Homo sapiens: one gene and its partners. The protein of the gene in region 1 purifies or fractionates together with the protein of each later gene. This does not show direct contact. Each region holds a gene or a part of one and is shown in the gene's direction. Other genes may lie near its edges.

Region 1 (3,657 bases):
AAAAATCTGTTTTAAGAATTTTGTAAGTATTAGAAGTATTTGAGGAAGCTACATAGCAGTGTACTAGAAAAGCTACGTCATTTATTTATATTAGAATCTAGAAGTTATTGATAGTATGACCAAAAATTCTTTTGAGGGAACAGAGTCATTTGGTTCGTATAAACTGTGTTTAGGAAACAAAGAAACCAGACAGAAGGCTAGATAACTTTACCAAAGAATCCGTTATAAAATTATTAAGTATTATCTGTGAAAAGCAAAGTTCTACCCTTGTTATAAAAAATAATAGACCACTTAGCTTTCATGATCTCATTTCTATGTCATCATATTTAAATGAACTTATTTACATAAGCTGATAAATCTACTTAAATAATAAAACGTTTTTGTTAAGCATATTGAATGTATATGAGGAGGGGGCAGTATGAGAAATACTGGAAAAATACAAAAGGGTAAAGTAGCCATTACATTCTAGATGCTTCAGTTAGCACTAAGGAGATAAGATATATGAAAGAAGAAACAAAACAAGATATAACATGATTAATGACTAAAGTTAAATCTATCAGTTCAGTATGGATTTTCCTCCATCACATCCATTGTATTGATATGATATTTAAATACTAAACTTTTAGGATTGTAAAGAGGAAAAAAAAGACCCACAGAAGCTATATCTAGTATCTTTTCTCCATTTATCCCTAAAAGATTAGGAAGCTTTATATGTTAATTTATATTTCCCTGAAAAGATGTTTCCCTTTTCTCAGAAATACATTCCATTTTTAATAGTCAGGAAAATCCTTAAATATTCTCAAATTCTCTCAGGTGGAAAAATCAAAATATATATTTTCTCATTGGCTTCTACTTGAAAAAAAAGAAAGGGATTTTGTATTTCCATATGTGGCATTAATAACCAGAAGACTATAATTTAAAAATTCCTCAATTTATAAAATTTTGCTATGTCCTAACTATGAAAAGTCTGCTGTTACATACTTACAATTTTTAAAATTCTTTTAATCGGCTATAGATTTTTTTAAAATGTTGTTAAAAGTTCTGCATTTTTCACTTTACTTAGGAAATCCAAAATTATCATTCTTTCAAGTAGATAATACTTTTTAAAAACTAGTTATGTTGTTCTTCTCTACTATGTAGTTGAAAATATAGAAAATAAACAATGTTTATTTGACATTCTCTGTATAAATCTACAATAGATTCTGGTTTTTTGAGCAAACCTCAAGGATGGAAAGTTACAAAAGTGAGAATGAACACAGTGAACTTCCCTTCTATAAAACACATTAAGAGGAAAGAAGAGCAATATATTTAGGTTTAAGATCAGATGACCCTTTTATACCATTATGACTATAGTTAATAACAATGCCTTGGGTATTTGAAATAGCTGAAAGTAGATCTTAAATGTTCTCACCACAAAAAAGATAAGTACGTGAGGTAATGGATATATTAATTAGCTTGACTTAGCCATTCCATAATGGTATACATATATCAAAACATCATGTTATACACCACAAATATATATAATTTTTGTCAATTCATAAATAGAAAATTAAATATATGAAAGGAGAAAAATGATCAGATGACTCTAATTTTCATCTCATACAATTGGCCTTCCTGACTTCTCTAGGAATTGCTTATTTGTGCAGCTTGAAATTGTACTTAAACTACTTCGTCACAATGCTGGCTCGTTTGTTTTGTATACTTAAGTCATTTTTAACTTACATCTCAAAATGTAATGTAATATAGCTGGCCCTCTCTAGCCATAGGTTTTGTATTAGTGGGTTTTGCATCTGTGAATTCAACTGAGGATTGAAAATATTTGAGAGGGGAAAAAGAAATGATTGCGTCCCCACTGAACGTGTGTAGTCTTTATTTTTTTGTACTTATTCACTAAGCAATACAGTATAACAACTATTTACATAGCTTTTACATTGTATTAGGTATTATAAGTAATCTAGACATGATTTAAAGTATATGGGAGGGTGTGAGTAGGTTATATACAAATATTATACCACTTTATATAAGGTACTCAAGCATCCTTGGGATTTGGTATCCTGGGGGAATAAGGGGCCTGGAACCAGTCTTCATGGATACTGACAGACAACTGTATGATGCTCCTTTTATTTTTATTTTATTTGTCTTAATCAATTCCTTCTTTGTGGTTTTTATTTCATAGAGACAGAGATCAGTGAGTCTGGCATGACAGTGAGAAGTACTGGCTCTGCAACTTCCTTGGCTAGCCAGGGAGAGAGAAGGAGACGAACTCTTCCCCAGCTTCCAAATGAAGAAAAGTCTCTTGAGAGCCACAGAGCAAAGGTTGTAACACAGAGGTCAGAGATAGGAGAAAAACAAGACACAGAACTTCAGGAGAAAGAAACACCTACACAGGTATACCAGAAAGATAAACAAGATGCTGACAGACCCTTGAGTAAAATGAACAGGGCAGTAAATGGAGAGACTCTCAAAACTGGTGGAGATAATAAAACCCTACTTCACTTAGGCAGCTCTGCTCCTGGAAAAGAGAAAAGTGAAACTGATAAGGAAACTTCTTTGGTAAAGCAAACATTAGCAAAACTTCAACAACAAGAACAAAGGGAGGAGGCTCAGTGGACACCTACTAAATTGTCTTCCAAAAATGTTTCAGGTCAGACAGATAAATGTAGGGAGGAAACTTTTAAACAAGAATCACAACCTCCAGAAAAAAATTCAGGACATTCTACAAGCAAAGGAGACAGAGTGGCACAAAGTGAGAGCAAGAGAAGAAAAGCTGAGGAAATTCTGAAAAGTCAGACTCCAAAGGGAGGAGACAAGAAGGAATCCTCCAAGTCATTAGTGCGACAAGGGAGCTTCACTATAGAAAAACCCAGCCCAAACATACCCATAGAACTTATTCCCCATATAAATAAACAGACTTCCTCTACTCCTTCTTCTTTAGCATTAACATCTGCAAGTAGAATACGAGAAAGAAGTGAGTCTTTGGATCCTGATTCTAGTATGGACACAACCCTTATTCTAAAAGACACAGAAGCAGTAATGGCTTTTCTAGAAGCTAAACTACGTGAAGATAATAAAACTGATGAAGGACCAGATACTCCCAGTTATAATAGAGACAATTCTATTTCACCAGAATCTGATGTAGATACAGCTAGTACAATCAGTCTGGTTACTGGAGAAACTGAAAGAAAGTCAACCCAAAAGCGAAAGAGTTTCACTAGCCTCTATAAAGATAGGTGTTCCACAGGTTCTCCTTCCAAAGATGTTACAAAATCATCATCTTCAGGTGCTAGGGAAAAAATGGAAAAGAAAACAAAAAGTCGTTCCACAGATGTGGGTTCAAGAGCAGATGGTCGTAAATTTGTTCAGTCCAGTGGGAGAATAAGACAGCCCTCAGTAGACTTAACAGATGATGACCAAACCTCTAGTGTACCTCATTCTGCCATCTCTGATATTATGTCATCTGATCAAGAAACTTACTCTTGTAAACCTCATGGACGGACTCCACTTACCTCAGCTGATGAGCATGTACATTCCAAACTGGAAGGAAGTAAAGTAACGAAATCTAAGACTTCTCCGGTGGTATCTGGTTCATCTAGTAAATCAACCACCCTTCCAAGGCCACGACCTACCAGGACTTCCCTCTTGCGCAGAGCACGACTT
Region 2 (3,313 bases), on another chromosome or scaffold:
AATCCCAGCTACTCAGGAGGCTGAGGCAGGAGAATCGCTTGAACTCAGGAGGTGGAGGTTGCAGTGAGCCGAGGTCACGCCACTGCACTCTAGCCTGGGCAACAAAGCAAGATTTGGTCTCCAAAAAAAAAAAAAAAGAAAAAAAATATACATAACCTAAGGCTTAATGTAAAAATGTAAAAACCAGTGTTTAAATTTGTAACTGATTTCCAAGGGTATAGCAAACAAGCTGACCAAGTGTTATTTAGTGTATGCTATGGTTAGATATTGGGAAAAGTATTGACTAAAATTGATACTCTGATCATTATGAAAAGCTTAACAGTCTTCATGACAAGATACATTTATACATACCCAATTTATTGAGACCTCTGCCACAAGCATTGTATTGGACATTCTTATGTTGACTTAGTAGCATCTTTGAATTCATTGGAGAGTTGTCTCTTTCTCATCCCAAGCTCCAAAGCTGAAGCTTGGAGGAGATACATTATGTGTGTACAAGTGACCCACCTTTTTGGGGAAGGGAGTGGAGGCAGGTTGGTAACTTATATGCATATTTCTGGATAACTTGATTCATGTACATATTTTTAATCCTTTAGGTACCCAGGCACTCCAGCTGATTTCAATCCTGGTTCTTTAGCATGTTCTCAGCTTCAGAATTACGATCCTGACAGAGCCCTAACAGATTATATCACTCGGCTAGAGGCACTGCAAAGACGACTTGGAACTATACAGTCAGGTGCTCTGAGTTTAACCACATCTTGGCAGCACCACAGTGCGAGACCCACAGCTCCCCTTTCTTTGAAATTCTTTCACACTCATTAGGATAATCAAAGCTTCCAGTTTAGTGCATGAGCTAATTATTAAGTTAGCCAAAGCTTAAACTCTTGTAACCAGCAGAGAAACTGACTTTAAATAATTTAAGTGAAAATATGATTTATCACCCCAGATCCCACTCCTCCCAAAAATGATTTCCTACTATGTTCATTCAGCGGACTGATGACACAAAATGCACAATGAGCACCAGTGTGCAAGGTACTCTGAGTCTACAGAGCCTAACTGGAGAACGTATTCCTAAGTAGCGCATGGCAGAAAGTGGTAAGGCCGTGCCGCAGCACTCCAGCCTGGGCAGCAGAGCGAGACCCTGTCTCAAAGAAAAAAAAAAAAAAAAGAAAGTGGTAAGGCATGCAAATCGGGTGGAGTTAAGGAGGAAGCACTTACTTTAAGCACTTAATGTAACCATTATCCCTGCTACTATATTGTGCTTTTATGTATCATCGAAAAAAACTATCCCATTTAAAATACTTTGTAAGGATTATTTTTTCTTTGTTCAAAAACAAAAAACAAGTCATACTTTAAAATAAAGGTGGATTCCCTGTTCATGGAAGGAAAACCTCTTTTCCCTATCTCACTTCAGTTCACTCCTGATTCAGAGACTTTGAATCATTGAGTAGTTTATCTCTTCCTTCAAGAAATCATTTGTTTACACCCAAGCATCTTGTAGTAATAGGAAACTTTTATTATCATAGCTGAGTTTGTTGGTTTGCCTAGGCTTGTTTTGTTTTGAGCATCCAAATTTCACAAGACCCAGATTTTGAAGACCAAAAGATTTTTCAAAAATGTATGAGGTATAGAACATCCAACTTTGAGAGCACTTTAAAAAAACTCTAAATATTAGTCTCACCTACCTTGCCATAGAGCCAGTCATGGTGATTTTTACATATATATTCAAAATCTCTTAAAAGTCAGCTTAAGTATATGGGCTGGGCGCGGTGGCTCATGCCTGTAATCCCAGCACTTTGGGCGGCCGAGGCAGGCGGATCACTAGGTCAGGAGTTCAAGACCAACCAGTTCGAGACTAGCCTGGCCAACATGGTGAAACCCCGTCTCCACTAAAAATACAAAAATTTGCTGGACATGGTGGCATGTGTGGATAGTCCCAGCTACTCAGGAGGCTGAGGCAGGAGAATCACTTGAACCCAGGAGGCGGGGGTTGCAGTGAGCCAAGATCACACCACTGAATTCCAGCCTGGGCAACAGAGTAACACTCCACCTTGGGGGTAGTGGGGAGAGACTCAGTTTAAGTATGAAGAGGACATTTTAAGGAAAAAAAGGGCTTTAAAAAAATGGAGAATAATAATAATTTCCTTTGTGTGAACTCTGGTGGGTCTGATACAGGTAGCAATGTAATTTGAAATCAGTTGAATTTCCTGTTTTTCTCTCATAGGTTCAACTACTCAATTTCATGCTGGCATGAGAAGATAATCCTTTGAAACATCATTAATTGAAGTGATTTTAAATAGATTTCCTTTTGTAAATCAATGGTTCTTTTGTGCTTTTGTATTGTGAATATTCAATGGGACCAATATGAACACAGCTTATGATTGTATACAAATCCCTTGCCAGCACATGAAAACAAACTGGAATTTGTATATATAAGCATTGTGTATGTATTCATGCACAATAATTATTGAATTACCTGTATATTTGTGGAATGCTAATTTAAAACATTAAATTATAAACCTTGTGTATTTATCAAATGGGTGAAAAGATTAAACTTTTACGCATTACAATACTGCTGAATGTGTAGCTCGAGGTGTCCTGCACTTTTCTTATAAGGCTACTGAAGTTACATGTTTTGCCTAATATATTCTACTGGTGATGAAGACAGATAATATCACTTGTAGAGACCTATTTTTGTATAATGGTAGAAGTTTTGAATTTTATGGGGTATTTTGTCAAGTACTGAAATAAAAATGACTTCACCATTTTCACCACACTGTATTTGAACCTTCTTCATTTTTAACTGAGCCATAGTTCTTGGTACATAGCATCTCATTACTTATGTCAAATATGTAGGAGTGAGAGATTCAGAGAAAGTTGTCCTAATCTTAGAGTTAATACTGTTGAAAGTTTTCCATGTGTCTTTGTATCAACTTTACATCTACATAGTGTTTTTTAAAAGCTATATTGGTATTTCATGATTAATCAGTATTTACTATATTACAGTTAGTGTTACTTGTTTCCAAAGATGTGTTCTCACAAATCCATGGCCCACTAAAAAGATGAAGAAATCATTAACTCAAAAGATCTTAATCACATTGCAGCCGAATTAAACAGTATCCCTGTTGTCCAAGCCAAATTCAGACTGGGAGGCTCTCACAGAGATAATACAGATCGCAATGTTATTTCTCATCTGGAGTCCTCCTCAATAACATGGCAACTCACTAAAACAGCAAGAGGACTAGTATTTGATGCTTACACCTGGAGGATTTTGTCTTATTATTTGATGTTCCATGATTTATACCAACACAAA
Region 3 (3,657 bases), on another chromosome or scaffold:
TGATTAGGCCAGGTTAGAGGCCCCCAAGCCTGAGGAAATAGCAAGCATGTTGTCAGTTCTCTACAGGGGCGCGTGGAATGTTGTAGGTAAATTGTTCAGTGAGGCAGAAAGAATGAAGGCAGCCAAAGTGCTTCTAAAGCAATACGTGGGTAGGCCTGAAGAGGGGATATTTATTAAAACTATTGAGGATTAGGACAGACCTTTTATAATTCTCTGGCTTTTCTACATCAACACCTAGCAGCCAGTGGCACCAAAGGTGGTAAGCAAGTTTATTCTCAGCACCACAGCCCACAGGCCCAGACAGAAGTATGAAGTTAGAGGAATTTCTAACTCCCCTTTTCTCTTTGTTAACAATATATACTCAACCTTGAGTTTTGCTTGTCCCATTCTTTTTTTTTTTTTTTTTGAGACAGAGTTTTGCTCTGTTGCCCAGGCTGGAGTGCAATGGCGTGATCTCGGATCACCGCAACCTCCGCCTCCCGGGTTCAAGTGATTCGCCTGCCTCAGCCTCCCGAGTAGCTGGGATTACAGGTGCGCGCCACCATGCCCGGCTAATTTCTTGTATTTTTAGTAGAGGCAGTGTTTCGCCGTTTTGGCCAGGCTGGTCTTGAACTCCTGACCTCAGGTGATCCACCCGGCCTCCTATTCTTTACTTTGCTGCCTATGGATCCCTGACAAGTTGTTCATGAGTAATTGAGATGCTGGCTGAGAGTCTCTGACATAGTCCCAATGAACATGCTTCACACTACAGTGGTCTCTCGGGGATGGTATAGTGATCTTAGTAATTATCAGCAAAAGGCTGGTGGCCCATACAGGAAGGAGTAAGTGAAGTTTAGCACGCCTCCGAACAACATTATTGATCCCCAGTATCATTCATCTCTTCTTGCCCTTGCAAAGGATATTCATAGCAGTAAAATGGCCAGGCGCTGTGGCTCACGCCTGTAATCCCAGCACTTTGGGAGGCCAAGTCAGGTGGATCACTTGAGGTCAGGAGTTCGTGACCAGCCTGGCCAACACGGTGAAACCCTGTCTACTAAAAATGCAAAGATTAACCAGGCGGGGTGACATGCGCCTGTAGTCCCAGCTACTCGGGAGGCTGAGGCAGGAGAATCGCTTGAATCCAGGAGGCAGAGGTTTCAGTGAGCCGAGACTGTGCCACTACACTCCAGCCTGGGCGACAGAGCGAGACTCGGTCTCAAAAAAAAAAAAAAAAGTAGTGAAATGATAGATCCTGAGGATAAAACTTCTTTTATTTATTTATGTATTTTTATTGATCATTCTTGGGTGTTTCTCGCAGAGGGGGATTTGGCAGGGTCATAGGACAATAGTGGACGGAAGGTCAGCAGATAAACAAGTGAACAAAGGTCTCTGGTTTTCCTAGGCAGAGGGCCCTGCGGCCTTCTGCAGTGTTTGTGTCCCTGGGTACTTGAGATTAGGGAGTGGTGATGACTCTTAACGAGCATGCTGCCTTCAAGCATCTGTTTAACAAAGCACATCTTGCACCGCCCTTAATCCATTTAACCCTGAGTGGACACAGCACATGTTTCAGAGAGCACAGGGTTGGGGGTAAGGTCACAGATCAACAGGATCCCAAGGCAGAAGAATTTTTCTTAGTACAGAACAAAATTGAGTCTCCCATGTCTACTTCTTTCTACACAGACACAGCAACAATCTGATTTTTCTATCTTTTCCCCACATTTCCCCCTTTTCTATTCGACAAAACCGCCATCGTCATCATGGCCCGTTCTCAATGAGCTGTTGGGTACACCTCCCAGACGGGGTGGTGGCCGGGCAGAGGGGCTCCTCACCTCCCAGTAGGGGCGGCCGGGCAGAGGCGCCCCTCACCTCCCGGACGGGGTGGCTGCCGGGCGGAGACGCTCCTCACTTCCCAGACCGGGTCGCGGCCGGGCAGAGGAGCTCCTCACATCCCAAACGGGGCGGCGGGGCAGTGGCGCTCCCCACATCTCAGACGATGGGCGGCCGGGCAGAGACGCTCCTCACTTCCTAGACGGGATGGCGGCGGGGAGGAGGCGCTCCTCACTTCCCAGACTGGGCAGCCGGGCAGAGGGGCTCCTCACATCCCAGACGATGGGCGGCCAGGCAGAGACGCTCCTCACATCCCAGACGGGGTCGTGGCCGGGCAGAGGCGCTCCTCACCTCCAAGACTGGGTGGCGGTCGGGCAGAGACACTCCTCAGTTCCCAGACGGGGTCGTGGCCTGGCAGAGGCGCTCCTCACATCCCAGATGGGGCGGCGGGGCAGAGGCGCTCCCCACATCTCAGACGATGGGCGGCCGGGAAGAGGCGCTCCTCACTTCCCAGACTGGGCGGCCGGGCAGAGGGGCTCCTCACATCCCAGACGATGGGCGGCCAGGCAGAGACGCTCCTCACTTCCCAGACGGGGTGGCGGCCGGGCAGAGGCTGCAGTCTCAGCACTTTGGGAGGCCAAGGCAGGCGGCTGGGAGGTGGAGGTTGTAGCGAGCCGAGATCACGCCACTGCACTCCAGCCTGGGCAGCATTGAGCACTGAGTGAACGAGACTCCGTCTGCAATCCCGGCACCTCGGGAGGCCGAGGCTGGCGGATCACTCGCGGTTAGGAGCTGGAGACCAGCCCGGCCAACACAGCAAAACCCTGTCTCCACCAAAAAAATACGAAAACCAGTCAGGCGTGGCGGCGTGCGCCTGCAATGGCAGGCACTGGGCAGGCTGAGGCAGGAGAATCAGGCAGGGAGGTTGCAGTGAGCAGAGATGGCGGCAGTACAGTCCAGCTTCCGCTCGGCATCAGAGGGAGACCATAGAAAGAGAGGGAGAGGGAGACCGTGGGGAGAGGGAGAGGGGAGAGGGGAGAAGGGAGAGGGGAGAGGGAGAAAACTTCTCTTATGGCCTTCGGTTTGTATTTCTCAGGCCAATAGATGTATCTATTCCAGTCAGAGGGCTCGTGGTTGCTATTTTTATATTCCCTCTTTTCTCACGGACTGAGAGAAACTAGTTAAGAAAGAAGTAACCTCTTTCTCATACTTTTTTTTTTTTTGAGACAGAGTCTTGCTTTGTCACCCAGGCTGGAGTGCAGTGGTGCGATTTTGGCTCACTGTAGCCTCTGCCTCCTGGGTTCAAGCAATTCTCCTGCCTCAGCCTCCCAAGTAGCTGGGACTACAAGCGCCCGCCACCATGCCTGGCTAATTTTTTTGTATTTTTAGTAGAGACGGGGTTTCACCATGTTAGCCACGTTAGTCTTGAACTCCTGACCTCGTGATCTGCCCGCCTTGGCCTCCCAAAGTGCTGGGATTACAGGCATGAGCCACCGTGCCTGGCCTTTCTCATACTTTTAGAAACCCTTATTTGACCAAATCCTTCCAGACCCAGGACAGGGAGATTTCCTTCTTTCCTAGGCTCCACCCACTAACCGGTTCACCAGCAAACCCTCTGGCCCTATTGACCACAGCAAGATGACTGGTATACAGAGTGAGGGTAACAGTTCTAGCAGACTAGGAGAAATAGCTACAAAAGCAGCTGGCTAACTTCATATGTATACTCCATAAATCATTAGGTTGGGTGGTTTGTGAATAGATTGTAGAATTTATGAGCAAAGCAAAGAGAGATATGAAGTCCACTGAGGCCTGGCCTCTGCCTATTGTCCTTTTTCTGGGCCTGAGAACATT

Evidence for each region.
Region 2: the proteins of CEP170 (region 1) and AKAP9 purify together in Homo sapiens (affinity purification with mass spectrometry; 3 studies listed by BioGRID and IntAct, with this or other methods). This does not show direct contact.
Region 3: the proteins of CEP170 (region 1) and PCYT1A purify together in Homo sapiens (affinity purification with mass spectrometry; 3 studies listed by BioGRID and IntAct, with this or other methods). This does not show direct contact.

The regions. Positions count from the first base shown.
Region 1 is NC_000001.11:243,164,636-243,168,292, reverse strand, and holds part of CEP170 (centrosomal protein of 170 kDa), read left to right. Parts: intron 1-2,176; coding exon 2,177-3,657.
Region 2 is NC_000007.14:92,107,898-92,111,210, forward strand, and holds the end of AKAP9 (A-kinase anchor protein 9), read left to right. Parts: intron 1-596; coding exon 597-736; intron 737-2,224; coding exon 2,225-2,262; 3' UTR 2,263-2,776; downstream 2,777-3,313. UniProt on the Homo sapiens protein: Scaffolding protein that assembles several protein kinases and phosphatases on the centrosome and Golgi apparatus. Required to maintain the integrity of the Golgi apparatus. Required for microtubule nucleation at the cis-side of the Golgi apparatus.
Region 3 is NC_000003.12:196,242,700-196,246,356, reverse strand, and holds part of PCYT1A (choline-phosphate cytidylyltransferase A), read left to right. Parts: intron 1-3,657. UniProt on the Homo sapiens protein: Catalyzes the key rate-limiting step in the CDP-choline pathway for phosphatidylcholine biosynthesis.